4 linked regions of the Homo sapiens genome follow. The protein of the gene in region 3 interacts with the protein of the main gene of each other region in a pairwise test. Each region holds a gene or a part of one and is shown on either strand. Other genes may lie near its edges. The genes, in order: PKIB, WNK1, E2F3 and RNF144A.

The links.
Region 1: the proteins of E2F3 (region 3) and PKIB interact in a two-hybrid assay, tested with the Homo sapiens proteins (one study listed by BioGRID).
Region 2: the proteins of E2F3 (region 3) and WNK1 interact in a two-hybrid assay, tested with the Homo sapiens proteins (one study listed by BioGRID).
Region 4: the proteins of E2F3 (region 3) and RNF144A interact in a two-hybrid assay, tested with the Homo sapiens proteins (one study listed by BioGRID).

The regions. Positions count from the first base shown.
Region 1 is NC_000006.12:122,613,312-122,620,911, forward strand, and holds part of PKIB (cAMP-dependent protein kinase inhibitor beta), read left to right. Parts: intron 1-7,600. UniProt on the Homo sapiens protein: Extremely potent competitive inhibitor of cAMP-dependent protein kinase activity, this protein interacts with the catalytic subunit of the enzyme after the cAMP-induced dissociation of its regulatory chains.
Region 2 is NC_000012.12:747,426-755,843, reverse strand, and holds the start of WNK1 (serine/threonine-protein kinase WNK1), read right to left. Parts: upstream 3,266-8,418; 5' UTR 2,279-3,265; coding exon 1,520-2,278; intron 1-1,519. UniProt on the Homo sapiens protein: Serine/threonine-protein kinase component of the WNK1-SPAK/OSR1 kinase cascade, which acts as a key regulator of blood pressure and regulatory volume increase by promoting ion influx.
Region 3 is NC_000006.12:20,474,341-20,481,940, reverse strand, and holds part of E2F3 (transcription factor E2F3), read right to left. Parts: intron 2,096-7,600; coding exon 1,984-2,095; intron 736-1,983; coding exon 516-735; intron 1-515.
Region 4 is NC_000002.12:6,920,159-6,927,758, reverse strand, and holds part of RNF144A (E3 ubiquitin-protein ligase RNF144A), read right to left. Parts: intron 1-7,600. UniProt on the Homo sapiens protein: E3 ubiquitin-protein ligase which accepts ubiquitin from E2 ubiquitin-conjugating enzymes UBE2L3 and UBE2L6 in the form of a thioester and then directly transfers the ubiquitin to targeted substrates.

The sequences.
Region 1 (7,600 bases), about 100 Mb from region 3:
TACGTCTTGTGAACTATATGTCTTGTGATAAGCATTGTTAATCATGATTCCATATAATTATTTTAAATAATAATTAAGCATATTCTATTAGTAGATTTAGGGATCTAAGGCCCAAGAGTAAGTGATTTCCATATACAAAAATCACATATTAGACCAGGGCTCTGGTTTTCCTGTTTTAAAACTTCCCCCATTAGTACATGTTCCTCTAAATCCTGTTAGTTTCAGACATTTTCATATGTTATATGTACTTTAAAAAAGTCATTACCAGGTAGTGACATTACATGGAAATAATCTAGGTTAAGCACTTGAACATCCCCATAAAATCAAAGACAGCTACTATTTTTTATTTTTATTAGAAGTACAACTGGTTTTGGCCCTGCGTGGTGGCTCATGCCTGTAATCCCAGCACTTTGGGAGGCTGAGGTGGGCGGATCACAAGGTCAAGAGGTAGAGACCATCCTAGCCAACATGGTGAAACCCCGTCTCTCTAAAAATACAAAAATTAGCTGGGTGTGGTGGTGCACACCTGTAGTCCCAGCTATTTGGGAGGCCGAGGTAGGAGTATCGCTTGAACCCAGGAGGCAGAGGTTGCAGTGAGCTGAGATGGCACCACTGCACTCCAGCCTGGTGACAGAGTGAGACTCCATCAAAAAAAAAAAAAAAAAAAAAGAATTACAGTTGATTTTGAGAAATCAAATGGATATGCTACTTTTTACTGAACTGAGGTACACTTTTTATTCTAGCAAGTGGCAAATAGCAGTATTATGTGCCCAGAGCAGAGTGGATTTGTGTTCTTCAGTCACTCCTAGTTGTAAAAATGTGACATTGCCCAAGAGTTGGGTGCTTGGTTGGAGAAGAGAGTTCAGAGATGTTTAGATAAAAATAAAACAATCTAGATTTGCATAATTTCCTGAACGGGAAGAGGTATTCTCACCTAGAATCCTGGATCTGTTAGAAGTAGGATTTCTCAGATTGGAAAGAGGGCCAAGGAAATGGAGATTCTTTAAGACAATGTGGTCTGTAGCCAAGATAGTTTTAATGTAATTGAAGAAGCAGCAACAGAAGCATCTACAGACAATATGAATGGAGCTGGATTCCTTCCTGTACCTCCCAGACTCTCCCTTCCTGCAGTCTCTGCTTTCTTCTAAGCACTCTTATTGGCTATGCTGTTGAAAGTATTCTTATCCCCGTGGGGGTGTGGGAGTAAGCATCCCCATGGGGGTGTGGGAGTAAGTAAACTGTAGGCTTTCTTTTTTTTTGGATAAAGTAAAGGGAGAACTGAAGTCCAGTGTGATAGCTTCAGGAATAAAACCATGGAAGACAGGAAATAATTAGGTAGTCTTCTCAAGCATGCTTATATTTTAATGGTCACAAAATAATTTATATCTAGATTAAATTTTATGGATTGAGCTAATACATCTCAGAAGAAGAAAACACCATTCTTAAAATTCTTAAAATCATAAAATCTTAAAATCAGTGTGTGTGTATGTGTATGTGCATGTGTGTGTAAAGAGGGCTTACAACTCATGCAATTACATTAGTGTATTACATTAGTTTATTTTATATTTTAAAATGAAAATAAATACCTCTACCATGGAGCTTCTGGAGCCAGGTATAATATTAAATTTTAAAATGCTGAAATAAGCCCTACTTTTCTCACTTTTCCCAAAAAGGCCTTGAAATCTAATGAAAAGCCAGATTATAGGTATGGTGGATTTTGTTACACTCCAAGGGTTTGCAAAAAGTCTATCAAGCCAAAATTTATAAACGCCAGGACTTCACAGAAACCACTCTTCTTTTCAGTTCCATCATCCTTGAAGAAGGGTGTCTATGATAATTCTGTGTATTGTAGTGAAGTAGTAGAACTTTTTGCAGTAGTGAAAAGAAAAAAAAAATTTTTAAATATGTCTTTCTAACATGCCATGAAGCTGTGCATATGTATATACTGTTGTAATCCTGGGGAGGTTTCATCTGAAGGCTACTGGAAGGACTGCTCTAGTAGGCCAAGCAAGAGATGCTGAATGAGTCAGGGCAGCAGAATTAGGGATGAGGAAAAGTATTCAGATTCTAGAAATATTAGGAGATGAAAATAATTGAGTTTGATGGTAGTTGGGATATGAAGTTAAGAAGACATGAGAATGAAGAGTGCCTCTCAGATTCTTGGCTTGAAGTGAGAGCTGGCACAATTTACAAACATGCAGGTTTAAGAATGGGGCGACTTCATGGGTGTACTGAGTTGGATAATGTCTCCCCAAAATTCACGTCCTTCCTAGAATCTCAGGATATGACCTTATTTGGAAATAGGATCACTACATATGCAATTAGCTAGGATGAGGTCATACTAGAGTAAGGTGGGCTCTTAACCCAATATGACTGGTTTCCTTATAAGAAGAGGCAAGAGACACAAAGAGAAAGACACATAGAGGGTAGACAACATGACAATGCTGGGGGAGATTGAAGTTATGAAACTGTAAACCAAGGGATGCCAAGGTTTGCTGGCAACCACTAGAAGCTAAGAGAGAGGCATAAAACAGATTTCCCCTCTGATTCCACAAAAATGAACCAACCCTACTGACAGTTGATTGGATTGCTGCCATTCTGAACTGTGTGAAAATAAATTTCTGTTGTGTTAAGTCACTCAGTTTGTGGTAATTTGTTACAGCAGCTCTATCAAACTAATACAGTGGGTGTGAGTAAAAGATACATTGGGGTGAAGATATCCAAGAAGCTGTTGTATAACAAGCTCAGAAGATGCAGATTGAGTTGACATTGGCATGCAGTAGGTAAATATAATGATGAGATCTCCTATGGGAAGCACATGGAATCAGAAGGAAAATGGGAGAAAAATGAATCCTGGGAAATGAGTTCCAGTCAGAGCCCAAGAGGAGAAGCTGGAAAGGGCATTGTCATAGCGACAAAGGTATGTAGAGCTTCAAAATGTGTGGCATGATCAACAAGTCATAGACATAAGAGGACATAATAGGAGAAGGGTTGAAGGGACTTTTGTTTTGACAAGTAGAAAGCAAGAGTAATGGCTTTATGATTGGAAGGTTGAAGCCAGATTGTGCTGCGTGAGAAGGAAATGGAAAGTAAGGAGATAGGATCAGCTAGTGTCCAGTAGTCCTCCCAGGATTATAGGTGAAAGATGGAGGAGACGGTTCGGTATGCAGGGAATCACGCGACACAGTGTCCAATTAATTTTTGTTTAATATTTAAAGGAAAGCCTTTGTCCTATCTTTAGGAGTCATTAGTGTGGGAGAGGCTGTTAAGTATAGAAAAGACAATTTATGGAGCTGCTTTCCAATAAAGGGGATTGGGTTAAGGACGAAAGTGGAGGCCTTGAACATACAATGTTTTCAATCTGTAGTAGAAGCTTGAGATGTTTTTAAGGGTGAGTAGTTTTTTTTTTTCTTTCTATGGAAATAACTGTTATGCTAAGAGAAAGGAAACTACTGTTTATTGAGCAATCTGCCAGACCCCTAGGGTTGGAGTCTGGTGGATTGATCAATAAATAGTAATTTGTAGCACATTTTCACTAATTTCGTTTATTCTCCAATCTGTGAAGTCAGTGTTACTGCTCTATTTTTTAAGACGAGTAGGCAAAGAGAGTATCTATTCAAAGTCATTTAATAGAAAGTGGCAGAGCTGAGATTAAAAGCCAAGTTTGATTGATGCTTATTTCTTAAATCTACAGCCTTTCTACCCTTCTAATTTGAGCTCAGTAAAAATGCCCAGCTAACTCACTTATATTGGACCTTCTTAGCCAGTGGCTGAGCACACACTCAGGTCTCATTCTCAATATCCCTTGTAAATATGGCTGCAAAGAGGCAACAGGTTAATGGGTATTGCATCTACCGTATGCACTACCTAATGTGGTCAAAGTTCTACACCTCTGAAATCAAACAGTCATTTCAGGTTTTTCATTTATTTGTCCCTTATGGATTCAACCATGTGGAAATACGGGGTTGAGGGGAGCCATTTTTATTTATTTCCCTCAGGGAGTGGTGGAGAAAGTTTTTAGGGGAAGTGAGGAATACTTTTCTGGCACGGTAGATCTGGGTCAGCTCCCTGAGATGCTTGTGGACTTTTGCCAAAGAATATTAAGCTTCAAGTAAAACCCAGCATAGTTTGTTTCAACTCTGAGAAATTCATATTTTGGGTTCTAGGTTTGAATGCTTTGAAAGGAAAAATAAACCTTTCAGTATTCAGTGAAACACTGGAGGAAACAAAACATTGTTTTTACTCATAGATATTTATTTTTACCAACTCTTTAAAAAAGTATTTTAATTTATCCCAACTTGATGAAAACTTTTCATATTTTCTTTCAATAATATTATTGGTCTTAATTGTCAGTTGATTTGTTTTCTTTTTGTAGGTTTTTGTTTTAATATGACTCATCTGAAATACGAATTAAGTTTGATGACAACAGTTTAGGTTATGTCTAAGTATATCTAGAATTATTTTACATAAGGACTGTTAAAAAGATTTACTTTATTAAGTACATCAAGATGTTTTTTATTTTAATTCTCACATGCATCCATAATTGTTTTAATATTGGGTATCTTCCAGTTTTTGTACATTTGTAAGGATGTTTTTTACATTAATGTAACAATGGTGTACAGTTTGTATCCTACATTTCTTCCTCTTAAAATTACTATTGCCAGTGTAAAAATGAGTAGAAACAGAAAATTAAAGAAAATAACATTTCTTAAAAGAATGTATAGTATCCTATGAAACAGTTTTTGGTTAGATAAAATTTCAGATCATAAGGATAGGAAACACTTTCTAGTTTGCTGAAAGGCTACATTCTAATTTCACTGCACCCTGTGGTAATCATTGATTTAACTCAGAAATGAGAAAACAAAATAAAAGAGAAACATACCCAAACGATTAAAATTCATTACTTTAGCTATTAGCAGTATTTGAAAGTAGAATTCAACTTTTCAAGGGCAGTATGTGCTTACTGTTATAAATTCTTCACCAAGAATCACAGACATGAAAATACCCTCAAACATCTTTTTCTTTCTTTCAGTCTCATCTCTTTGTCAACCCTTTATCATTACATAATAATGAATTATTCCACATGTTACTTTCTGGGCAAGTAATGTTTTCCACTTAAAATACTACCAAGTCCTAACCTTTAACATTTTTTAATAATGTTTTAGAGATAATATACGTTGCAATGAAAATCAGAAATTTCAGAATAGTTTTAAGAAAAAAAAGGTCTATTTATATTTGATTTGTCCACTAACTAGAAGTAATCACTATAAAATTATTCTTTGCATACACATAACTTTTTAAAAGACAAAAAATTATCATATCATATTCCCTGTTTCCCACTTAATAAATCATCTTAGTATAAATTACAGTTTTTTAATGGCTCCATTAACTAATTTTCTGGTGACGCTACAGAAAGTTACCAAATTCAGTTTTATAAACAATAGCATAGTAGATAACTCTGTTCATAATTTTGATACATCATATACACCTATTTGATTAATTCCTTTGAATAAATTTCTAGACATAGAATTGCTGCATCAGAGGATGTTAATTTTTAAAGAGTTTTGATATATTTTACAAAATATCTTCAGAAAGCCTGTGCAGTTTACATTCAAAATAATACTTTTACTAACATACTAATACAGTTTCAAAAATTTGAAATTTAGAAATCAGTGGGAAAATATAGCTACATTTGTATTTCTTTGATTGGTAGTGAGGCAGAATATTTTTAGTTATTTTTATGAATTGTTATTTTATATTCTTTGCCTGTTTTTTCAATCTGTTTGCAAGAGCTTTTTATTGATAAATATATCAACCTTTTGTATGTCTATTTTACAAATTTTAAATGTTTTCTTTTTACCATTAATGATTTAGGGTGCACTGCTTTGTAGGATACTTAATTTTTTAAGGATGTCAAAGTTATCAATCTATTCTCACGTAGTTTGTGAAGTTTAAGATGGCCTTTCCCACTTGTAAAAGTATTCACCTACATTTGCTTTTAGTACTTTTTACATCTTTTGTTTCTATTTAAAATTTTAATCCATTGGCAGTTATTTTAGTAAGAAATAAAGTGGGGATCTTACCTTATTTTATTATTATTTAATGGCTAGCCTTTTTTTTTTATAGCTATTTGTCCTATAATGGATTCCCTCCCCATTGATTTGAATAGCATCCTGTGCCTTCTCACCCCCGCACCTGCCTTGGAACTTACCTTTCTCATAGCTGTCCCACTGTTAGAATGCGTTAGAATGCAGACATGACTGCAGGCTCTTTGACTGCTCCCCCTTCATCCACATCTGCCACTCACAACCTGAGCCCTAGAAGGAAAAAAATTTCTATAACCCTTGTCATAGCATCCAGCTTTCCTAAATTACCACATTACCAGTTTTGGAACATATAATTTTGTTGGTCCTGAAAAACAGCTAATTTTCAAATGCTTCAAAGTCTCTGATTTTATCATTCACCTGCTCATTTTTTCTCTTTGTGTTGAAACTTTGTTATATGTTTTGCTACCTCCCCCTTGACCCAATGTCTCCTTTGTATTCTTCCTTCAAAACCATTCCATCATGCTACCTGGAACAACTGTTCAATAATAATAAATTAATCTATATTATTAACTTCCACCTTTTCCCTTAGCCCTGAAGCTTGACTCTCCCCTGGGTATCTTACTTCTCCTTAAGCCCTTCCTATTGGAGACTGTTTATTATTTTCAATTTTATAATCTCAGAGTAGTAGAGGGGGGCACATTCCCTTCATGCCCCCATATGCCACCTGTACAATATTTTTCCACCCTCTTATACTCACTTCCGCTCCTTTGAGCACTCTGGCTATACCATCCTCTACCGTTTCTCATTTCTATCATCAATGCTGAGGGTTTAGCACCTGAACAAACCCCTCCTGTTCTGAACACTCTAGTAATTGGTGTACAGTCATCTTCTCCCATCCTTCTTCTGTCCTAAATCTGGTGCCTTCCTATGTACATCCAATATCGTGACCTCTCACTTACCATGTGGTCGTGTGTGTTTTTTTGAATTCCCAAATGTATTCAGAAGAGAACCTAGTTAAAGAAGCACAGACTCAGAAGTATATAGAGCCGAAAAGCTCATTATAGACTAAGAATTCTCTCTTGGTTTCTTAACACAGATAGGCTAATAATTCAGCTTTCCATTGATCAGAATTTGTGTTGCTTGGTTTAACTTAGACAATCGTTTACTGCTAGTATCAAAATATTTGAGAATATTGTTGCATAAGCATCTGTGTAGAATCAAGAAGTTCCACACAAGGCATGAAAGTGGTTATACATGTCTAGCTCCTGAGGCGGTGAGGTAAGAGGTTGAGTGGCTTTGTGACACTATGCCTGGCTGCTGCATTCATGGATTTTTGTGCCTTGTTTGCTCGTGTTCCTATTTAATTTTTTAATTAGTATGTTGAGGGAGGCAGATGTTGAGTAAATGCTGTTTTGTAAATTTTTAATTAGGATTTTTAAAAATTGAAATACCTTTTTTTGATTTTTGTTTAGCTCTAAATGTTTTGTTTTATATTATTTTCCCTATTTTAGTTGCAGCAAAGATTTCTGCATAAACTACTTCAAGATTTGCTT
Region 2 (8,418 bases), on a different chromosome or scaffold from region 3:
GCCACCATACCCGGCTAATTTTTGTATTTTTAGTAGAGTCGGGGTTTCCCCATGTTGGTCAGGCTGGTCTCGAACTCCTAACCCCGTGATCCACCCGCCTTGGCCTCCCAAAGTGCTGGGATTACAGGCGTGAGCCACCGTGCCTGGCCCAGACTAAGTTTTTTGAATATGACTGACCAAAATGAACAGTTTTCGTTTGACGAGGTTTTTTTTTTTTAAAGATCTGTCACCTTTTCAATTCTAAAATACTATAAAATTAATGAGTAGTTTTAATTTCACACTACCTTAGAAGTTCTACATCATTAACTGTAAAAGTTAAGAAATGATTATGTTTGTAAAGAACTTCTTAGTTTTTAAGTTTACTTCCACATGCTGTGTTAATTTCACATTTGATATGGCCTTAGTTATTTGGAACCTGACATTCAAAGGGTTACGTGTTAACATATTAGTTCATGGATAAAATAAGTTCCAAGATCATTCAGTTATTTTCATATCCTGTATCAGGCTGGTCTATATTCTTGGCAAGATTACTATATCAATAATGGCAATTTTTATGCATGCATAATGTGGCTGACTTCCTTCAGCATAAACCTGCTCCTACTAATAACCTATGTTCACCTATGCCCAATCAGGGCAATATTTAAGCAAGCTGCTTCAGTAAGTCAAGCAACAAGTAGCCCAAACTCAGCTGTTTAAACCTAGAATGTACTAGTCAACCGGAATGACACACCATTATTTACACCACTAGAGGTTAAAAAAGGAAGTGCTGCGACTCCTTCGGACTCTTGGGAAAGTTCAGCTTAAAGATATTTTATAAGATTAAAACAATGATGATGACATTACGACTCTCAAAGCACTTACACAATTTTGCATGGGCTCCTATACTATTCGCTGTATAGTGAATGGGCTGAAAGACATTAGTTTAATGAACGTCAGAGCAATGCTGCTACTGTAAGGCTTAAGCATCATTAGGTAGAACAACATCAAACATCCAAAAGGGGCAGAGAAGAGTCTTTTTTTAATAATTATTTTATACTAAATGCCTGTGCAACCATCAAGCAAAATACATCCAAAGGTACAAGGTTGTTCTCATTTAAAAAGAACAGCCTGATCTCAGGAATGAAAACACGCTTCTACACCCAGACGCAGCTCATCACTGCAGAGCCTTTGATGAGATTGAAATGCACAGAAGAAGAAGCATCTGTACTTTCAACTTCCCCACTCATTCCAAGTTTCCTGCCAGACTCTAAACCAGGAGACAATTCGTTTGTACTAAGATGACCTTCACCACCGCTGCCCGGTAGCAAATCCCTCTGGCTACCAATAATTCTTATCCTATCCCAACACCTAGGCACATGCTCCACATTCTCCTAATTTCAGCCCCTTTCAAAAGTTGGCCTCCCCGTCCCACTCGGAGTCCAACAGAGAATGCCAAGTGAAGGGTGAACTCGATCAACTGGCTTCGCCGAGCCAAATTTGGGATCCAAAGGACCGTCAAATAAAGTAGGTGGGGCTTTACCTGCAGTTCACACCAGGCGACTTCCACGGTGGTTTCAGTGTCCAGACCTTTGTAGACCGTCTTAAAGGAGCCTCTGCCGATTTCGATGTCAAACTTGAGAAAGCGGCCATCGTTAGACATTCCCACGGCCTTGGTCTCCAGCTCTTCGATATCATCCTGCTGCTGGCTCCGTTCCTCCTGTGGCTCCTTGGCGCTGCCGCCGCCGCTGCCACTTCTCGCCGGCGGCGGCTCCTCTTTGCTCCCCACAAGGCTAGGCTGGGACACTGGGCGGTCTTTGCTGGTACTGCTGGGGACAGTCGAGGGGGCAGGGCCCGCGACGGCCTGTTCCCCAGGGGCGGCAGCGGCTGGAGGCTGCTGGGCTACCTGGGAAGTGGCGGTGGCGGTCACGGTCTCTTCCCGGTGGGGCTCCGGTGGAGCACTCTGCGGGACAGCCGCGGGGATGCTGGGCTGGGGCAGGGAAAGAGGAAGGCCGGGAAGCTCCAGTGCAGTGGCATTGGAGTCACAGATGACGCTCCGGCGGAAGAAGCGGTGCTCAGTGGTGGTAGTGGTCGCGGCCGCCCCACGGCTGTCCTTGTCCATAGTGTGGCGGCGGCGCCTGTACTCCTCGGTCCTGCCGGTCACAGCGTCGGCGGCCGCGGCTCCCAGTTTCTCCCCCACGGAGGAATCGGAGCTGGAGCCATTCTTGGGGGCAGGAGCCGGCGGCGAGAGGAACAGGGAACCGGGAGTGCTGCTCTGCTTCTCTGCGGCGCCGCCAGACATGGTCGGTTCGCTGGAGAGAGGCGAGCGGGCTCGGATTCGTGAACGAAAAGGGCGTGAAGGGCCGAGCCGCCCGCGCAGAGGTCTGCAGGGAACCGCGGCCGGGCGGGTTCGCGCCGACCCGGACGACGCCTCACTCAGCACCGACAAGCCGCAACGAGGGACAGGCGGACCGCTGGGCCCAGCTGCGGCGGGGGCTGGCACCGAGGCTGCTGCGGCTCACGAGGAGGGCTCGAAGGCGGGCGATTCGGGAGCTGAGCCACGGGGGTTAGCGCCGCACGGTCCGCATCCATCCTGCGGCGAGCGGCGGCCGGGCGGGCGGTGGCAGCAGAGGCGCCGCAGTCATGAGGGGAGGGCCAGGGGCCGGCACCGAGTCGAGGCGGATGCGGCGGACGCGGCTCCCACTGCCGCCGCTCGCCGAGCTGGGCGGGCTAGGCCCAGAGGGCGGCGGCACCGCGAGCACGGGACCAGGTCCGACGCCCGGGCGGTGGCGGCCCCGGGGCAGAGGAGTGGGAGGGGCCGAGGCGGGCGAGGGAAGGCCGCGGCCCGGCTCCCGGTCACTCGGGCGGCCGCCTCCTCCCACACGCGCCCCCAGCGATGGGGACCGGCCTCACAGGTCGCCCATCGCCCAGAGGCGAAGGGCCGGAGCCTCGGAGCCTCGGCGCCTGAGGAGCGGGCCCCCCCTTCCCCGAGGCCTCCCCGCCCGCCCCAGGCCTGGCAAACCCGTCTCCTCCCGGGCCGGTGCCGGGGGCTGACGGAGGAGGGAACGGCGGGGAGGGGAGGGCCGCTCACCGCGGGGCCCGAGCTCCGCTGCTTCTCTGAGGCAAGAGGAGAGGAGACCTAGAGGACTGGGTGAGGGGGAACAGGGAGAGAAAAGAGCAGCCACCCCCACCAGGCGCCTTCTGTCACCGAAGATGGGGGTGCGGAGTGGCCGAGAGAGGAGCCGCGTCCACCCGGGAAACTCTCCGCGCTAAATGGCGCCGGGAGTCTGAAGCCTCCACACAGCCCGCTCGGATCCCGCCCCCCGCCGCCCGGAGCAGCCCCACCCCCCAACTCGCTCCGGGGCTTTTGCGCAGGCGTGCTAGCCCCGAGGCACCCTGGGACTTATAGTTTACGGGTTGGCGGGGATGAACGGGACCTAGAAGAAAAGTGCCTACGACTTCCGTGATGCCTTGCGGTTGCTGTAGCCTAATGCCTCGTGGGAGTTGTAGTTTTCTTTGGAAACCGTCCCTTCTGAAAGGCTGATGGGAGCGTCATCACGGGTCGCTCAACCCCATCCCGAAGTCCGCGCGAGCTTAGGAAAATCATTATTTAGGGATTAATTGTGGAAGAAGGAAAGGAAGGAAAAAAAAAAAAAAAAGAAGAGGAACGAGCGGGCGGGGGGTGGGGGGGGGGATGGAAAGACTCCCATCATGCTCTGCTAAGCTAGAGAGCTCTTAGGGTTGCCATGCAATGAAAAATGATCTGTTGTTCATCTTTAATGGAGAGAGCCTCAGTAGTGTTGAGTGACTGCAGGGCTGTGAGGGTGGAAGGGAAGGGCAAAGCAGGATAACCGGAGCCTGAGCTCTGAGTCGGAGGAGGGGAAAAGAAACTTTGTGAAGATTGTGCATGAAATTAATATTGATTAAACGGATTGGAGGAGGAGACACGGAGGATTACCTTCCATCCTCCTCCCCTCATCAATTAAGGCCACATTCTCAGCTCCCGGCCGAGACGGATATTCTGGCTCTCAAAAAAGGGCTGCCTTACTGAAATCGGGGATCCTAGTGAACTCTATCTTTGCTTTGTCTGAAAAATAATAAAAGGGGGGTTGGGGGAGCGGTGGATTCAAGAAAAGATAAGGTCTACGGATCTATGGGTCTTTGACCACACTTGGGGGGCTGGGCTGACTTCTGCCTTTGTAGTTGGTTGAAACTTATTTTCCACCTTTCTTCTGCTGGTGGCTTCGTGAAACAACACCCCCTCTTTCTCTAGAGCTCCTGAATGTCCACATGCAATGTCTACAAAGGCTCTGGGCCCGGGAAATGTGGATCCATGCGGCTTGCCGCCATGGAATGTTTTTCTTGAAAGCATCCTTGTCTGCCTGGACCCCTGTGCTCTTCGCAACTACTCAAGATGTGGAGGGGACGAGCACCAGGGGGCACCAGACCGAGTAGGAAGCCGGACTCGGGAGCAGACTGCAGTTTAAAAGCCTCAGTCCAACCGGTGGAGAGCGGGAAGCGCTGAAAACGTACGCAACCGCATCAGAGCGTCCGGACGCGGCCGCCTCTCTTCAGCGCCCGCTGCGGAACAAGCTCGAAAGCGCGCGTCGGGGCCGAGGACCACGCTGCGAGCGAGCAGCTAGCAAGGAACTCGGCAGGAGGTTCCTTAGCACAGTTATCGGATGAGCTCCACCTACAGAAGTCTTGCCCTGCAGTTCATGTTAATTCATCTGATACGTAAAATACTTAACCCTATTTTTCTTTTCTTTCTTTTTTTGTTGTTTATCACAAGCTACACTTTCAAGTTTACAAAAATGTTTTAAACCAATGATCGTTAGGTTTCATGAAGCTGACAGGTTACGAACATTTTAAAATGCCGATTCAGCAGGGACAACTAGAGTACTAAAATATTAGTGTTCCATTGCTTTAGAAAATGTATCTTTCATTCGTTTGCTATTGGTAATGGTAAATAATCTCATTATGGCAAATGGAATTAAGAGTGTTTTTCTAACCGTAAACCTAATGTAAGCAAGGGAAGAAATGGCTGTAAAATACATTTTTATTGTACTTTTGAGTAAAATAAAACTTACCCAATTGTTGCTTCACTAGGAAAAATAGTCTGATTTTAAACATAAGGCAGCTAATTACAAATTGGCAAGTTAAAAGAAGATCAGTAAATCACAATGTTCCCTTTTGGCACCATGAAAAAATTAGGATATTTTTGTGTGAGTGGTTGTTAAAGGATTTTATTATTGCCTGTTCCTGTTTACTGAGCCCTGAAACTTTGGCCACACTGCATTGGACACAAGTCCCTTGATAATCACCATGCCCTATCAACATGTCTTTTCAACCAGGAACAACTAAATTCATTGTAAGTAATTTAATTAACTGTTGACTTAAAACCACACTTGCCTAGGAGACAGCTTTTCCCACTTGTGTAATATTAGCTTTACAATGAAAACAGATACAATTTTAAGTTGAATATAATCTTATTATGTACAATGATTAGATTTAAAGGTTATATTATTTAGTGTGCGTATTTTACTAACAAACACTTTTTTGCTCAGTTTTTGTTTTGTTTTGTTTTGTTTTGAGAGAGGCTCACTCTGTCGCCCAGGCTGCAGTACAGTGGCTTGATCCCAGCTCACTCAGTTCTTTTTAATGCTTACCAACCTACCTCCAAGTAAATGGTATTTTCTGTTACTCATTACTATAATTCCTAATAGTACTTTTCCTTTCTCTGTCACTTCAATTATCCAGTAAAGAATCAACCTCTCTATGTTCCATATAAAACATCAAGTGACTGTAAACAGAGATAACAAAGAACCCAGGATACAATGAATGCACTAAGCTCAGAGGTTTGACTTCCTTACATTTGGTTCCACAAGAAGAATACAAGTATGTTATTCTGTCTCACCATGTCTCTATTCTCTCTAGTTCTTGTTCATGTTCTCACATTGATTGATTCATGTTTCTTTCTATTCCCTTCCATTCACATTTTTTTGTTTACATGGTTTCTGCCATTGGTAACTAGCTAGCAATGAAAGTCAGAGACACCTTTGATTTAGACAGTGGCTGAAATATCCTAAACACACAAAATCTACCTTACTTTGAATGTGGCAAAATATTGATACATAAAGTTGCTTCTTGAAGTGTAGGGGAAAAATTGTCCCACCTTAAGAGCATTTCTCTTTTTTTTTTTTTGTCTCCTTTCCCTCATTTTCCCATGCTCCTTTGTCTTGCCTATGGGTAATTTTTATTTTACCTCTTTGTCGTCTGGAACCCTGTCATCTGGAAGTAGGAAGTGAGAATCAGGCAGATAAACAATGAAGAATAGTTTTTTAAGAACTTTATATTATAAATGAAATAAAGGGGGTGGGATTTTCCCTATATCAAAGTATATTATAAAACCATAAAATTAAATCTATATGGTATTGAGATAAGCATAGGCAATGGAACAGAAGAGAGAGTACAGAAACAGTCTCATGTATGTATGGGAATTTCATATAGAAAATGGCATTTGAAGTCAGTAGGGCAAAATAATAAACAGTGCTTGGACAATTAGTTATTCATTTGAAAAATAAATGAGGTCAGTGTTTACTTCAGACTGTTCACAAAATTAATTTCCACATAAATTGAAGAACCAAACTTTTAAAAAATATCTCTAAATAATTTTTTAAATGTAGGAGAACATAGGGTACTAAAGGGCTTCAAAGAGCAATCCAAGAGCCACAAAGGAAAATATTTGACAATATCAAAATTGATAATCTATTCAACAAAACACAAGTGACAAACTGCCAGAAAAACTCTGGAGACTGTATAACAAAAGATTAATATCCAAAAGATATGGGGGGAAAAAAACCCTCTTAAATCACTGAGAAAAAGGCAAACCACTGTATAGAAAAGGAGGATATGAAAAGATAATTTACAAAGCAGTAAATGCCATGGTGGCTTACACCTGTAATCCCAGCACTTTGGGAGCCTAAGTGGGAGGATCACTTGAGGTCAGGAGCTCGAGACCAGCCTGGCCAACATGGTGAAACCCCGTCTTTACTAAAAATACAAAAATTAGCCGGGCATGGTGGTGCGCGCCTATAGTCCCAGCTACCCGGGAGGCTGAGGCACGAGAATCGCTTCAACTCAGGAGGTGGAAGTTGCAGTGAGCCGAGATTGAACCATTGCACTGCAGCCTGGGCAACAAAGCGAGACTGTGTCTCAGAAAAAAAAATAAAATAAAATAAAGCAGTAAATGCAAATAACAAAAATAGACATGAAAAAGATGCTGAAACTCAGTAACTAGCAAAATGCAGATTAAAATATAATATTTTCTCTCATAAAATTGAAAAATTATCTTTTTTTGAGACAGAGTCTCATTCTGTTGTCCAGGCTGGAGTGCAGTGGTGCAATCACAGCTCACTGTAGCCTCATACTTCTAGGCTCAAGCCTGCCGAGTAGCTGGGACCACAGGTGTGCACCACCATGTCCAGCTAATTTTTAAATTTTTTGTAGAGATGAAGTCTCACTATGTTACCTTGGCTGGTCTGAACTCCCTGGACTTAAGCAGTTCTCCTATTTCAGCCTCCCAACGTGCTAGGATTGCAGGCGTGAACCACCACGCCTGGTCTAAATTGAGCAAAAAAAAAAAAAAAAAAAAATTTTTTTTTTTTTTTTTTAGTGTCCCCATCATGGCAATTTGCAAAATTTTTAGGGATTCATAATATCAAGTGTTGGCGAGGATGTGGAGAAACGTGCTGTTAATGATACGGTAAATTGGTACAAGCTTTTTTGAGGGCAATTTGTTAGCAATTATTAAAACGTACAATGTGCATCGTCTTTTTCTTTCTTTTTGGTACCTACCTTGGAAAAATACTTGCACGTGTTTCCTAAGAAATATCTATAAGAGGGTGGGTGCTCACGCCTGTAATCCCAACACTTTGGGAGGCCGAGGCGGGTGGATCACAAGGTCAGGAGTTCGAGACCAGTCTGGCCAACATGGTGAAACCCCGTCTCTACTAAAAATACAAAAAATTAGCCGGGTGTGGTGGTGTGTGCCTGTAACCTCAGCTACTCGGGAGGCTAAGGCAGGAGGATCACGTGAACCGGGAGGTGGAGGTTGCAATGAGCCGAGATTGTGCCACTACACTCCAGCCCAGGCAACAGTGCAAGACTCCATCTCAAAAAAAAAAAAAAAGGAAAGAAATATCTATAAGAATATTCACTATAGCCAGGTGCAGTGGTGTGTGCTTGTAGTCCTAGCTACTTGGGAGGTTGAGGTGGGAGGATTACTTGAGCCCAGGAGGTCGAGGCTGCAGTGAGCTATGATCACGCCACTGCACTCCAATCTGAGTGACAGAGCAAGACCCTGTCTCTAAAAAACAAAAACAAAACATAAAACCTTTCACTATGGCTTTATTTGTAACAAAAAATCCAAATGATCTGCAT
Region 3 (7,600 bases):
AGACGAAATGGAGGCATTTAAGTCTTGCCTTAATTTACCCAGAAAGTGAGTTAATCTGCTATTAGAACCATGGATAAAGATATTCTGTAACTATGCAGTTGTACGTATACACATAGATAACCCATAAGCCATCATTTCCAGATTCTTATTAGAAACAAGCTGAAGACGTGTACACATCTGTCAGATACACACGTGGGTGCACACAGACATCTATGTAACAGATGAACAGCAGTCCACTTTCCAACTGCAGGGACCTCTTTAAGGATGCCGTTGCTGGATGCTCATCAAATATAAATCCTTTTATCTCTGACAGTATCTAAACAAAGTCTCTTTGTAAAGAGACTTCAAACTTCTGGCTTAGAAGCTGAGGAGGGAAGAGAGAATGAGAGAGAAGAAAACAGTAGGAGAGAAAAGAAAAGAACGTGTGGGCGTGGATGTGAAAGTGAGGAACTAAGAAACCAGGCAGTTTGAAACGACCCCCTCAGAGCCGGGGCATGGGGAGGACTCCTACTCACATCCATTGGACGTTGTTTTTAGACTTCTTCTTAATGAGGTGGATGCCTTCCAGAACGTTGGTGATATCATAAATCCTTCTCTTTTGCACTTTTAGCACTTCTGCTGCCTTGTTCAAATCCAATACCCCATCGGGTGACTGGCTCAGGAGCTGAATGAACTTCTTGGTGAGCAGACCAAGAGACGTATCATACCGCGTTTTTTCTGAGGGAGATTTTGGAGCTTAAAGAAAAACAAAAACCGAGCGGGTGGGGGATAGGGGGAAAGGTAAAGAAATGAAGGGTGTCTTTGCAGTCAAGCAAGCTCTCTTTCCCACTGCAGCCAAAGTATTAGTATCTGAAGCAAGGCTGTCGTTGCTGTTGGTGTTGGCAAGTCATAGAAAGCTATGAAAGTTTTTTATTAGAGCAGGAAGGGAAGGTAAAAATTCCAGGGTTTGATTAAAGCATTTCACCTTGAATTTCTCAAGAGTTTCTACCTTGACTTACACCATTCCCTGGCTCCAATGAAGAATTTACATATAGCGGGCGCTAAAAAATATCTGTCAAATGAATGAAAGAGTGCTGTGGCCTCAGGGGACCAGCACACACGAGGCCTACGGTGATGGAGCCAGGCTATGAGTCTCACTAGCACTGCAGGACAAGGTCTTAAACAGACCCATCTCAAATGGCCTTTCAGGCTCTGGTATCTGTGTGTGCGTGTATCACCTGTTCACCAATTTTCCAAACAATGCTTCATTTTGATAAATAATTACCTGGAAAAGTCTTCTGCCAAATCTCCCCATCTCTCTTAAAGGAAATTTCCTTACTTAATATTGTACTTGTTCCCCCATAGGTGCACAGGTCAAGGTTTTAATTTAGTGTCACACAATTTGTGGATTGCCTAATGCATGAACTAAAGGAAGAGAGAGAACAAAGTCTAATTTAGCCCTTATGTTAAATGCAAACACATACATAATGGGACTAGTTGGCTATTTCTAACCTACGTTTCTCTCTCTCCCACAAGAAACGGTAATAGTATTTGATAGAAAGAGAAACAGCCTGCAATTTATCGGGCTCAATCAATTCTTACGCTATCATATGCTGAGCTGGAGATTGAGGTCGGCACAGACACTGGTGACTCTGGCATAGTTCGTGGACATCCAGTTTGCCTCAGACTCTGAAGCAATGTCCATTAAGGGAAGTTAAAATTAAATTTGATATAGAATGGTGCCAAAAGTTCGTATTCCGAGTTGAAAAATGAAACTACATACAGTTAAAAGAAGTCTTCCCTTATGGTACCAGTGTGACTCTGTAGCCTTTCACTGGTTGTCTGCTGACATTGTATTTATTTTTTTGGATAAGCACAGAAAGAAATGAAAAAGAACAAAACATGCCAGAATTATTCACACCTTGGCATCCTTCCGGCCATAAGCTTTGAAACTTGGAAATGCCATACCAAGGAGAATAAGGAAAGAGATGAAAAGATCCTTACTTTTTGGACTATCTGGACTTCGTAGTGCAGCTCTTCCTTTGCCCTTGGGGGTTTTTAAACCATCTGAGAGGTACTGATGACCGCTTTCTCCTAGCTCCAGCCTTCGCTTTGCCTGTAATAAGAAAGTGCGATCTCTCGTCACCGGTCATATGGACAAGAACAAGAAGGGAGGCAGTTTGTGGGCTGGCCTGCCAAATGCTGCAGGCTCATGCCAGCTCTCACCCCTCTGCTCCACCCCACTCAGCATCTTGTCATTCCCTAGAGCCAGGATTCTAGCGTTGTAGGCTGGGTTGTCATGCACACTCTCTTCACCTGCCGTGATCATCCGTCCACACCCAGATGGACAAACACAGCGATCCTTCAGCATTAGGTTCAGGAGTCACTTTGTTCATTGATTCAACACATCATGTGCCTGGCATGGGGTTGGATGCTAAGAATATCACAGGCGCCGTGGGGCTTAAATTCCCTTTCCACAGTGAGTCTTTCCTGCCCATCTCCCATTCTCCGACCTGGGTTGGACCCCCTTCCTTGTGCTCCCCAAACACTCTGTGTTTATTTGTATCATGACACTTATTCGGTATTACTGTAAGACTTATCTGTTTCTCATTTCCTTTAAGGCAGGGACTGTTTCCCATTTATCTTTGTATACCCAGTGCTTGGCACAGAGCCTGGGTTTCTGTAGATTTTCAATCACTCTCTCTATATACTGTATATTCAATGAGAGAAAGGGTGATTGGATCGTAACACAACTAGTCACAGACTACAAACGGCCCTTCATCGGGAAAACAAATACTGCAAACATGCAATCTTGGGCTTCAACCACTATTACTTTCTCCATTTTCTTATCAAGCCTAGCAAATGAGAAGCCCTTATCTAAGTTTTTAATTTAACTCCAATTAAATTTTAAAATATCCACATAGCGTCTTCTAGGTACCTAGGCATTGGGCTTAGTAAGCAAGATAGATAAGGGGCTTCGAGTCCAAGAGAAAAGATAGATGGTTAAGCAGTTGTTAAGTACTAATTGTATGGGTATGACAGGTGTTTTAGAAAATAAATGGCACCAACTGGACACTCAGCACAAAAATATGTATTTAGGCTCATTTTCAGGCAGATTCTTCTAATGAGGAGATTTGCAGTTTCTTTTTTTTAAGACAGAGTCTTGCTCTGTCGCCCAGGCTGGAGTGGAGTGGCGCGATCTTGGCTCACTGCAACCTCTGCCTCTGAGTTCAAGTGATTCTCCTGCCTCAGCCCTCCCCAAGTAGCTGGGACTGCAGGTGCACGCCACCACTCCCAGCTAATTTTTGTATTTTTAGTAGAGACGGGGTTTCGCCATGTTGGCCAGGCTGGTCTCGAAGTCCTGATCTTTGGTGATCTGCCCACCTTGGCCTCCCAAAGTGATGGGATTACAGGCGTGAGCCACTGTACCCAGCCGAGAGTTGCAATTTCAAAACAACTCCCCGTGATGTGAAAACGTAAGTAATAACTTATCAGCGGAAGCTAGATATTCAGCCCCTCTATGGAAAGTTACCAGCTAACCCTGCACCGTCTACTACGATAGCCACTGGTTACTAGCTCATCCAAACTGACATGTGCTATAATTGTAAAATACACACTGAATTTCGAAGACTTAGTACAAAACAGGGTAAAATATCTCAACAATTTTAGTAGTGATCACATGTTAAATGAAATAAATAAAATACAACTGACCCTTGAACAACATGGGTTTGGACTGTCCGTTTCCACTGATTTTATTTTTTTAGAGACAGGGTCTTGCTCTGCCGCCCAGGCTGGAGTGCAGTGGTGTGATCTCAGCTCACTGCAACCTTGTCCTCCCAGGCTCAAGGAATCCTCCCATCTCAGCCTCCTGAGTAGATGGGACCACAGGTGCACACCATGATGTCTGGCTAATTTAAATTTTTTTTTTTTTGGGTAGAGATGGGGCCTCTGTATGTTGCCCAGGCTGGTGTTGAACTCTTGGGCTCAAGTGATCCTCCTGCCTCATCCTCCCAAAGTGCTGGGATTACAGCCGTGAGCCACTGCACCCGGCCATGAGTGTGTCCACCTATATGTGGGTTTTCTTCTTCCTCTGTCATCCCTGAGACAGTAAGACCAACCCCTCCTCTTTTCTTTCACCACACCTTCCTCAATGTGAAGATAACGAGGATGAATTTTATGATGATCCACTTCCAGTAATGAATAGTAAATCTATTTTCTCTTCCTTATGATTTTTTTTTCATCCAGCTGCTTTATATGCCCATATGCCTTCTACACTTTGAACCCTGGACCAAGTTCAGCTGCTAGGAAACGCAAATTCCAGAGCATACCTAAGATGCATTGGATCAGAAACTCTGGGAATGGGGCTGAGCAATCTAACAGGCCTTCCAGGTGATTCTGATACACCTTAAAGTTGGAGAAACCTGGCTTTAGATCATAAGGGAAAAGAGTAAGACACTCAGGCAAAGCCCAGCTCTGCCCAGCACGGCCTATTTCACACACCCTCACCTCTAGTCCTGCTTGGCTGATGAGGGAAATCTATCCTGTGGATTCCACTTTCATTCATTCCAAACTTTCTTTTATTGATAACATTTCCTCTCTAACTTCATTGTAAGAATACAGTATATAATACATATACCATATGAAATGTGTTAATGACTGTTTATGTTATTGGTAAGGCTTCTAGTCAACAGTAGGCTATTAGGGCTGGGTGCATGGATCACACCTGTAATCCCAGCTACTCAGGAGGATGACTTGAGGCCAAGAGTTCAAGACCAGCCTGATCAACGTAGCAAGACCCCCCATCACTAAAATAATAATGAAAACCCCAAACAACAGGCTATTAGTTAAGTTTAGGGGAGTCAAAAGATCTATCTAAATTTTTGACTGTGTCAGGGCACCTCTAACCCCAATGTTGTTAATGGGTCAGATGTAGCATTAAAATTATTTCATCTGTTTCTTTATATATATATTTTACGATGTGGCTTGCCTCAGTGGCACACCTTATCTTTCTACTGCAGTGCTAAGTTAAACATCATTCTAATGGCTCCGGAAGGACAATCTGCTTGCTGGACTTCATCTTCCCCTCCCAGCCATTCTGTCAAGTCCTTGTGTGGGCCTGCTGTGGTTGGTCCAGCAAACATTCACTCTTTATCAGGCAGAAGCTCCCTGTTTGTTCCTTGGGGAGCCATCCCTTTCCTGGTCTAAGCGCATCTGTGCACACAGGTGATCCAGGCCTGGCTAATCATTGTGGCCCATCCTGCCCTCCCCGCCCCCACCGCGAACAGGTTGAATGGCTTATGACCAAGGCTGGAGGAGCAAAGGCTAACCCCAGGAATGTTTCTGGAACTATCTGGCAAGAAGCAGGTATGTCTTTCCAGTAAGGTTGGTAAGTGAGGAGCCTAAAGCTGCCTGAGAATGGGGCCTTCCCAGGGGAAAGCAGAGTGGAGAGAAGGAGAGAGAGGGGTCTGAGACCACCACTCAAAACTCTGGCTCTGGTCATGCCCTGGGGGCAACTGTTGGTCTTTCCCAGACTTTCCAGTTACATTAGCCAATAAACTCTCCTTTTTGCTTAAAGCATTTTTTTTTTTTGAGACCCGGAGTCTCGCTCTGTCACCCAGGCTGGAGTGCAGTGGTGCAATTTCAACTTATTGCAAGCTCCGCCTCCCGGGTTCATGCCATTCTCCTGCCTCAGCCTCTCGAGTAGCTGGGACTACAGGCGTCCGCCACCACGCCCGGCTAATTTTTTGTAGTTTTAGTAGAGACGGGGTTTCACCATGTTAGCCAGGATCTTCTTGATCTCCTGACCTCGTGATCCGCCTTCCTCGGCCTCCTCAAGTGCTGGGATTACAGGCGTGAGCCACCGTGCCCAGCTGCTTCAAGTGTTTTGAGTCGGGAACCTAGAATTGTGCTGTTGCCAGTGACAGCTTATGGAACTGGCTGAGTCAAGATGGCTATGGTGTGACAGGGAGTTGGCAGGCCTTGTTAGAGAGTGGCAGAGTGTGTTGGTCACTTCTTGTGACCGCCAGGAAGATACTACAGATAGAGAGAAACTTCATCTGAGGCTGGCCCGCCTCAAAGAAAACAGCTTTGCTATGGAGGCCTTCTCTACAGAAAGCAATCTAAGGAGACATAGAGCTGTATTCTCTGCCCAAATTAAAGTCAACAAATGGGCTGGGCACAATGGCTCACGCCTGTAATCCCAGCACTTTGAGAGGCCGAGGTAGGCAGATCACCTGAGGTCAGGAGTTTGAGACCAGCCTGGTGAAACCCTAACTCTACTAAAAATACAAAAAGTAGCCCAGCATGGTAGCATGCACCTGTAGTTCCAGTTACTTGGGAGGCTGGGGCATGAGAATTGCTTGAACCTGGGAGGTGGAGGTTGGTGCCTCCGCAATCCAGCCTGGATGACAGAGAAAGACTCTTGTCTCAAAAAATGAAAATAAAGTGAACAGAAAGAAGGCAAACTTGGAAAAGAGTCTGGGACCCAGAACTCCTAGGGACCTAGGGCCGTGCCTCAGCAGTAAAGAACCACCCACTGGTCAGCAGGCTGGGGGCATACTAGTTTTATCTCTCCCTCCCAGGCTGCTGTTTCAGACTGCCATGAGGCAAAGGCCTATGGAACCATTAAACTGTAGGTTAGGGAAATTTCCATGTCTGCTGCTAAGTGACTGAGACTTAACTTCGAAAGACCGGGACTAGTCTTCATGTGTAACTCTCGTTACTAAGCACCAAACCATAAATTGACCAAATTTGAATGCTAGATGGACAAGCTACTAAAATTGCAAGGCACTTTTATTGCGAAAGAATCACTAAGTCTAGAAAGTGAAGGTCCATGATGTTGAACCTCTAAGGAAATCAATCACTAGGTCCAAAAGCCACGCCAGAAATAAGTGAGGTGTGAAGAAGGGGCAGCCCCAGAATTCCTCCCAGGAGGTGGAACTTGGGGTGGACTTATAGGCTCTACAAACTGCTGTCCCTGTGGAGGACATGACAAGAAGCAGGAGGTGAGCACTTTATGTCATTTCCCCTTTTCAGAAGGGAGGTTCCCGTTGGGTTATCCTGTTATTTTTCCTCCCCTGTTGAGTGAACAGGGAGGGCGGAACTGGATTTGTGGGGACCACATATTACCTGTTTGGTCTCAGATCTGAACATGGGTGCAATAATTAGAATCTCTTGAAAAAGGGCTAAGAATTTTGATATTTGATGGAGCAGCATTATTTTAATGCTTAACTTAGCAAATTCAAGCACACATGCCTGGTAAAACAAAAAACTATATGACAGGATTTAAATAGTGCGGGTGAGCTCTGTCTACACCACCCTGCCCTGGGCTGAGCACCAGGGTAGATGGAAATCTCTTCTCTTGGTCATCTCAATTTTTGTTAGTTCACAGCGTGAGCATCGTACTGATTGGAGAGGTATTCATTGTTTATGCACAGATCTTTACATTACATGGCCCCTACCAGTAAAACAGCCAACTTATCCAGTAATCAACAGAAGGATGGGCCATTTGGTTCCAAGCAGTGGTAAAGCCTGGCTCTGTGAGATTCTGTGTGGAACTCCATGTGGCACCTTCCGGCAGTACTTTCAAGGGTAACTTGTACTATAAACAAGGTATGTGCTA
Region 4 (7,600 bases), on a different chromosome or scaffold from region 3:
AATCATCTCAACATACAATCTATATAACAATTATGACTGGGTACTCTACATTCTGTTTTTCACACCCAAAACCCACTGACAGCACAGCTCAATTGGGACTGGCCAGAATTTAAGGGCTCCAGGGCCCCGCAGGGCCAGTAGCTACCGCAGAGGACAGCCTGGCTCAGGTCCTCGCTTCCCCTCCACCTGTCTGCATTCTGTTTTTTCTGCTACACAAGGAAGAAGTCCTGCCTGCCTCCAGAAAGCAGCCCTTATCTGCCAGGCCAGCAGGACACAGCTCAAGGCCCTGATCAGTCGCCTAGGCTGGCACAGTCAAGCTGGTCCTCCCGAGGAAAGGCTGGATCCACTGCACATGGCCAGGGACAGAAAAAAAACAAGGTCACTGTCAAGGAAGCAGAGCTGCAGGCCAAAGGGAGAGAGTCCCAGGAGTGATTAAAGTATTAACAGATAAGAAATGCTTCCCTCGGCCAATCAGCAGGCAGAAATTGTGCATTCCTTTCAGGAGGAGCTGCAAACACATCCTTCTGAGTCTTACTCAGGCTTTCACAGTTGACAGCACAGTACCTGGCCTAGAGTGAAGGCTACACAAATATTTATTCGGCATATGAAAAACCCTGCACCTAAAATCCTGTGCTATTTCACAAACAGGAGACGTGAAGAGCAGGCAATCTCACGGGACCAACAGGGCTTACTATGTGTTCTGGTTGTTTTTACTACAGTGAAACTGGACTCAACAAAGTACCGCAAGTTTAAGAGATGAATCCCTGCCATGTGGACTCCAGAACGGTAAACTCTCCCTTGTTTCAGAAAGGGCACCCCCGCTCTGCCCCATCCCTTCCTCTCTGCAAGTCCTCACCTTCACTATATAGTCCTCAATGTGTCTTTGAATCCCTGGTACCAAGTAGTTTTTGCCAAATGATGGATTAAAGAACAAAAGTAAATAAACAACAACAACAATAGAAATAAAGAGTAAGATATTCATGAATATTATAGTGAATGAATGTGGCTGTTTCTGGACTCAAATGTCTTTGAAGGGAAAAGACGCAGATTCATTTCAACAAATATTTATTGAGCGCCTCCTATGAGAAGCCTGTGTGCCGAGTGCTAGAGGGGTACAAAGACAACCAGGACAGGACTGGGATTCCCAGCCCACACTGTACCCACACCGAACCTATTGATGGAACACACAGGTGTGCATAGCCCCACACCTGCAACCTTGAAGCCGCATGCATATGGCTCTGGGCCTAATCCATATGGGCTCCTGCTTTGCCAGGAAGAGCAGGTAAGAGAGGGAAAGGCAGTTTTATCAAGGCCTAGCACGGCCAACCCCTGCACGGGGCAGTTCTCTCGCATGTGTTACCAGTCCAGTCCTCCAGGACCACCTCCCAGGCAGACCCTCATTTTCTCTCCTTCTCTTTCTCCAGGAGCCGGCCACGCAGCCCAGCTCTGGCACTGGGCCCTGAACAGAGTCAGCCACCAAACTTTTGGAAAAGCTTGTCGCTTCTTGACAAAAACGGACAGATGCAGCTGACACCAACTCCCCCTCCTCTCTCACTGCCTTCAACACAGATGTGGCGCAGCTGTGGCCAGCCCTTTTGCATGATGGGGCAAAGGAAAACATGCTGAGGATGGCAAAGTGAAAGAAGAGAGAACCTGGCTCTCAGTAACATCCCAAGCCGCTGCACCAGCACCTGGAAGCAAGCACCTACCTTCAGTGCCTTGCTATTAAGGAAACAGAAAGCTGTTTAAGTCCTTGTTAGTAAGTGCTATGTTGCTGGCCAAACATATGCTAACACATCCAAACACAAACAAACACTATGCCTGATACTGGTACATATATATGTGTTGTGTGTATTGATGCATGTGTATGTGTGTGTTTGTGTGTGTGCGCACACGTGTGTGTTGAATCATGTCTCCCCCAAAGGATATATTGAACTCCTAACCCCTGATGCTTATGAATGTGACCTTATTAGGGTGTTTGCAGATGCAATCAAGAGAAGATGGGATCAACAGGCTTGGCCCTAATCCAACATGACTGAAGTCCTTGTGAGAAGAGGTGCACCCCCAGCGCAGAGACAGAGAAGACAGCCACATGAAGATGCAGGCAGATATCAGAGAGAATCATCTACCTGTATTCTGCGCCTTGAACCTGCCCTTTACCTGCGGCTTGCCCACATCAGATCCTGAGGTTCCTGCCTGCTTCTGTCCTTGGATAAATGGGAACTCTTACTCTCATATCTGGCCACTTTCACCCCTACACATGATAACAAGAAGAAAGTAAAGAGAGCAACTGGGGGGGAAGGGGGAGGACAGAAGCTGAAACACAGATGGTTTCTTAGTGTCTCACAATGGATTAAATAAAGAGATTTCTTTTTCTTTTTCCTAATACACCTGGCCCTATCCACCACTCTGCCGGCCACCAATGACCAGACTGGCTCAGTTTTCAGGGCCTTGGATAGTGCTTCACTGAGACAAGAAGAAGAGAGAAGGGCCTGCAATCTGTGAGTGAGATCTGTGAGGATACAGCCAGCCCCATCCCATCCACACCAGGGATTACAATCACTTACTTCTGCCAAGTGGTTAGAAGGAAATGCAAGTGTTTTAGTCAAGAGAGTTCAGATCTAAGGTGCCAACTCAGAAAGTCTCCTGGAAGCTCTTTGGATGCCACTGCCCTAGGCTACAAAGCTCCAGTGCATACGCTATCAAAATTCGCCGTGTGGCAATCGAGGTCGCCAGAAAACTCACAGAAGGACCCAGGTGCTTCCTGACATTCTCCATCCGTCAAAGAGCCAGCCCCAAGGTCTCTGGAAGCCCACACCCTTCCCAAAGCAAAGGCTCCCTTGGAGCACACAGCCTGTGTTATGCTTGTGAGTGCACAACTGGCACCACAGACCATGGGCACATAAGTTACTCAGAAAACGGATTCCTCAGAGACAGAGAATACAGTGAACACAAAGGATGGCTCCTCACACACTTCACAGCACACTTAGCAGTTGCACTTCTTCAACTCTTATACAGGAAGAACCACAAGAATCTCTGGCCCTGGGGCCCTACCTGGCAAGTTCCTCCAAGGCACTGGCGAAAGCATCCTAGTGTTTCATGAGAGGCCCGCACTCGGAAGGGAGATGGAGGCCCCTCCTCTGCTGCTCCTGAGCGTTCATCCAACAGCCCTGTCTCCTCAGCATCCTCCAGAACAAACCCTGCCCGTCCTGGGTCTTTGCCCTGCTCTGGGACAGCTCAGAGCACCCCCTTCTCTACACTCCCCAGCTCTCCAAAGCCCACCTATGCTGAGTCCCATTTCCACAATCGCTTCCTCACCAGACTCCCAGGACATGCGCTCGGATGGGCACATTCAGGCGCTTGGTTCTAACCATTCCACATTATGCATCTCCCTTCACATCGCAGGCAAAGGCCACGTCCTATGCTTCCCGTGCATCGCACAGTGCCTCGGGCCCCCCAGCAACACGGCCACGGAAGTCTCGCCAGCTGTTACTCTGGATCTCACTTACATGGTGTCTACACAACCACGGTACCCAGGATTCTCTCTCTGCATTCCAGGCCACCAGGCTACATTCTACCATCCTCACTCTTAAACCCAAGCAAATATTCCCATCTGACTTCTCAGGGTCTTAAGGTGTATTGTTCTGTGACCTGACCTAAAGAGAGAACCTGGTTTACTCGGATCATGATGGAATACAGAATTTACACTCGAATTCCATTTCTTCATTCATAATCTGTTCCAGGCTTCCCTCTTGAACCAGGTTTCTCTATCTTGTATTCAATCACTTAACAAAAATCCATTCAGAAAGAGCATGATAGGCACTGAGAGAATGTAAAAATGAGTAAGTTCCTACCTGTGCAGAGATTATAATTTAGCAGAGGAAATAGGATGGTTACATAAATCAGTAAAATTGGATTAGAGAGTTTTAAACGCAACTACAGGTTCTGAAAAAAAAAAATAAAGTTGCTATGGAAGCACCTGGTGGGGAAAACATTTGTGCCTGGGAAGACGAGAGAGAACGCAGGCACCTGGGCCTGCAGGACCTGGCCTGGACCCTGGAGCTTTAACTCCGTCCCAGTTCTGCTCCGTGCGGCTCCATCTTCTCATCTGTGCAATGCCAGTGTCAGAGGAGAGCATCTCCACAGTCACCCACATTGGCAATTTTACAGCTGGAAGGAAAGGCAGCATTTGTGATGAGCCTTCAAGAATCATTAGGAAGCTGGCACATGGATGGTGGGAGAGCGTCCCAGGGCACACGTCAGCAGCTGCTGAGATCAGCCCTGGAAAGACAGGCTGGAGCCAAGGCAGGAAGAGGCTTGAACACTCAACCCGCGGGCTCACAGGTAACTTGGGCAACGAGCGTGGCTGGAGGTCTCTGAATAGAGAAGTGTTAACAGACACCGACAGGCTTAACACACAAGCTTCCCAAGAAAGTTAACAAAAAAAAAGGTGTGCATTGATTCCAGCTTCAGCGCATTTCCGTTTCAGTGAATGTTTGAACTTGAGGAGAGAGTCCCTTCATGCAGACATCTGAGTATTTCTGTGGAGGGAACACTTCCTACCACCCAAATGGGGACATGAGGAAGCGCTGCTGCCTCCCTGGCAGGCCCCCTTTCATTCAGAGGATATGGGCAGACCTCACTGAAGAGGCTGTAGCAGGGGTCGAGCAGGTGGTGCAGACATCAGAGAGTTCACTCTAGAATGCTGGAAACTTGCAGAGGAGGCTGCAGACCAGTCAGCGACGGAGGGTGCACAGAGGGGACTCCTGCAACCCACCAGATCACCAGCCAGGTGACACACCCTGGAGTCTGAGACACACTATGAAAAAGCAGGAGGCCGGGCGCGGTGGCTCACGCCTGTAATCCCAGCACCTTGGGAGGCCGAGGCGGGCGGATCATGAGATCAGGAGATCAACACCATCCTGGCTAACACAGTGAAACCCCGTCTCTACTAAAAATACAAACAATTATCAGGGTGTGGCGGCGGGCGCCTGTAGTCCCAGCTACTCGGGAGGCTGAGGCAGGAGAATGGCGTGAACCCAGGAGGCGGAGCTTGCAGTGAGCTGAGATTGCACCACTACACTCCAGCCTGGGCGACAAAGTGAGACTCCATCTCAAAAAAAAAAAAAAAAGAAAAACAAGAAAAACCGGGCGGGTCCCCTCTGCATGGCTCGCAGGAGGCAGTCAAGCTTGCTGCATTCTGCACTCCTCTGCCCTCCAGAGGACCTTAACACACCATGCATCAACAATAAACATGCCCTGCTCCACAGAATTACCTGAAAGCAGTTCTTGGGAAACCTAAAAAGTATTCCCAGGAACACAATGTTGTAAGAGATGTGCACAGTCCTTGGACAGACACAAAAGCCCGTTCAATCAATAAAGAGACTCTGACAACATCCACTTTCAGGACTTGGAACCCTTCCCTTTTGCTCCCACAGGCTCCCATAGGCAGAAGCCCCCAGAGCCTGCACGGCCATATCCAGCACATGCACGGGGCTAATGTCTAGTTCGCTGGCCCCAGTCAACTATGGGTCACTCGGAAGACATGGGAGCAAGGTGACTGACTGTAAAAACAATGGTCGCTATGGGTGGTTCCCCTGATCTTTCCCTGAACTCACTCTCCCACCAGGTAGAACTGGAGGAGGAGGAAAGGAAATGGAGGGAACACAGATAGGGAAAGACGCTCCAAAACAAAACAGTGAAAAGGAAAATGCACTGATGGGACCTTCCAGGAGATGCCAGTAATGAAAGCGGCTGTATTACACACGGAAATCTGGGTCCAAACAGCTCAGAGACCACCAGCCACCCTAAAAAGGCCAATGGTAAGGCAGCTGGGGAGCTCGGCCCTGTGTGCTGGTCCTAAGTTCCCTGTCCACCCCAGGCTGTTTCTTGCTGTTCCCAGGCCCAGAATGTGACCTTGTCCCTCTTAATTTGCCTAGCTAACTCTGACCCGTCCCTCCCATCCCAGACCAACAGCATCGCCCCAGCAGGCAGCCTCCCTGCCACCCGGGGCTGATCCAGGCACCCTCCTGTGGGTCCCACTGCTCTCTGCCCTGACCTCCCATGCTGCCCTGACCCCACGGTTCAATCTGTTAATGTTTGAGCTTCCCGCTCCCTAGACTACAGCCTCCTCAAGGTCATGGGATCTATCCTTATCTGCAGGCCTCTGGGTTCAAAGCCAGGCTTCAAAATTGACGACGTGTGTGCGATGTTGGACAACATCCCTGCTCTCTGCTTCACTCTGCTCCTCTGTCAGCTAGGGATAGCAACATACGCCTGTGCTGCAGGGCTGTGTGAGAACTGCATCCACGATGCAAGCAAAGCCCTGAAGATCAGGCAAATCCATAATGAGTATCAACCACCTCCTCCACCTCTAGTGCCAAACACACCTGAGATGATAAAATACTGGTTGACACACTGCATGCCACCAAGGAGCTTGCTTTTGTCTGGAACACTGCATCCAGCTTATAAGCCTGCTCCTTAGAGAAAGCCTGCCTTCCAGTTCTACGGAACATCCAGGAAGTAAGCACCTTTAAATTCAGGTCTTGGGTTATTTGTGGAGTGAAGCAAGGTGAAGGCTCCTATCAGCAATGAGCCACCCTCCTCAAAGCTTCATTTCTCACCATTTCACTTTGGAAAAAATCCACTCTTCTGAAAGTTAAAATATTTTCTCTTGGGAAACAAACAAACCCTTACGAATGGTTGTACTTGGTGAGTCGTCCTGTAATATTTATTCTCCTGGAAAAAAAATATGATCCAACAGTACATTTTTATTTCTGGATCTTGGAAAATATTTACACCAACACCTCAGTTTTATCCTCAAAAAACTGGAGCCATCCAGGGAGGTTAAGACGCTGGCCCAGGGCCAGACAGCTGGGTCAGGAAATTGTAATAAGCTCTATCCTTCAGCCCCACTACCCAGCAGGTATGTGAGCAGTGGCTTCAATTTAATTTCTTCATCTAACTAAGAAAGGGTATTCATGTGTTTCAGTAATGCAGAAACAACGGAGAAAGGAGGCTAGTCTTGGAAATGATTACTTCTTAAAGAAAAGAAAGGCACCTCCAACTTCATTCTTCGATCTCAATGTTAGAAAATTCCCCAGAGAAAACACGGAGAGTCCCTCTTCCTTAGAAGCACTCCATTCCATTCCCCGCCTCTGGGCTGCCTCTGAGATCCCACATCCTGTGAAGCCAGGGGTTCCTTGCTCTAAGAGAGTCTGAGGGCTCAATATCATCCTGAATGGTTCCAGACCACCCAACGTGCAGGGCAGCGAGCACGGCTTCATCCTCTTCTATTGCAAGTGAGGTATGGGAAAAAAGGGACAGCAGACAGAACCAGAAAAGCTGATGCCAGGGCTGGACCAGCCACAGCTTTTCATGTGGCCTGGGCTACCTGACCCCTCCTTTCCAAGCTACGAGGTTCCCATGGTTACAACAAGGGTTCATAGGCCAGGTGGGTGCTGGCCCACCTGGTTCTGTGATTGTCAGTCTCCAAGGGCAGGCTTCCTTCCCATCTCTACCCCCAGAGGGAAAGGCTTCCAGGAGGGAGAAATGTGAACAAAAGTAGGCAGTGGGGCCACGTGGTGGACCACAGGGGAAA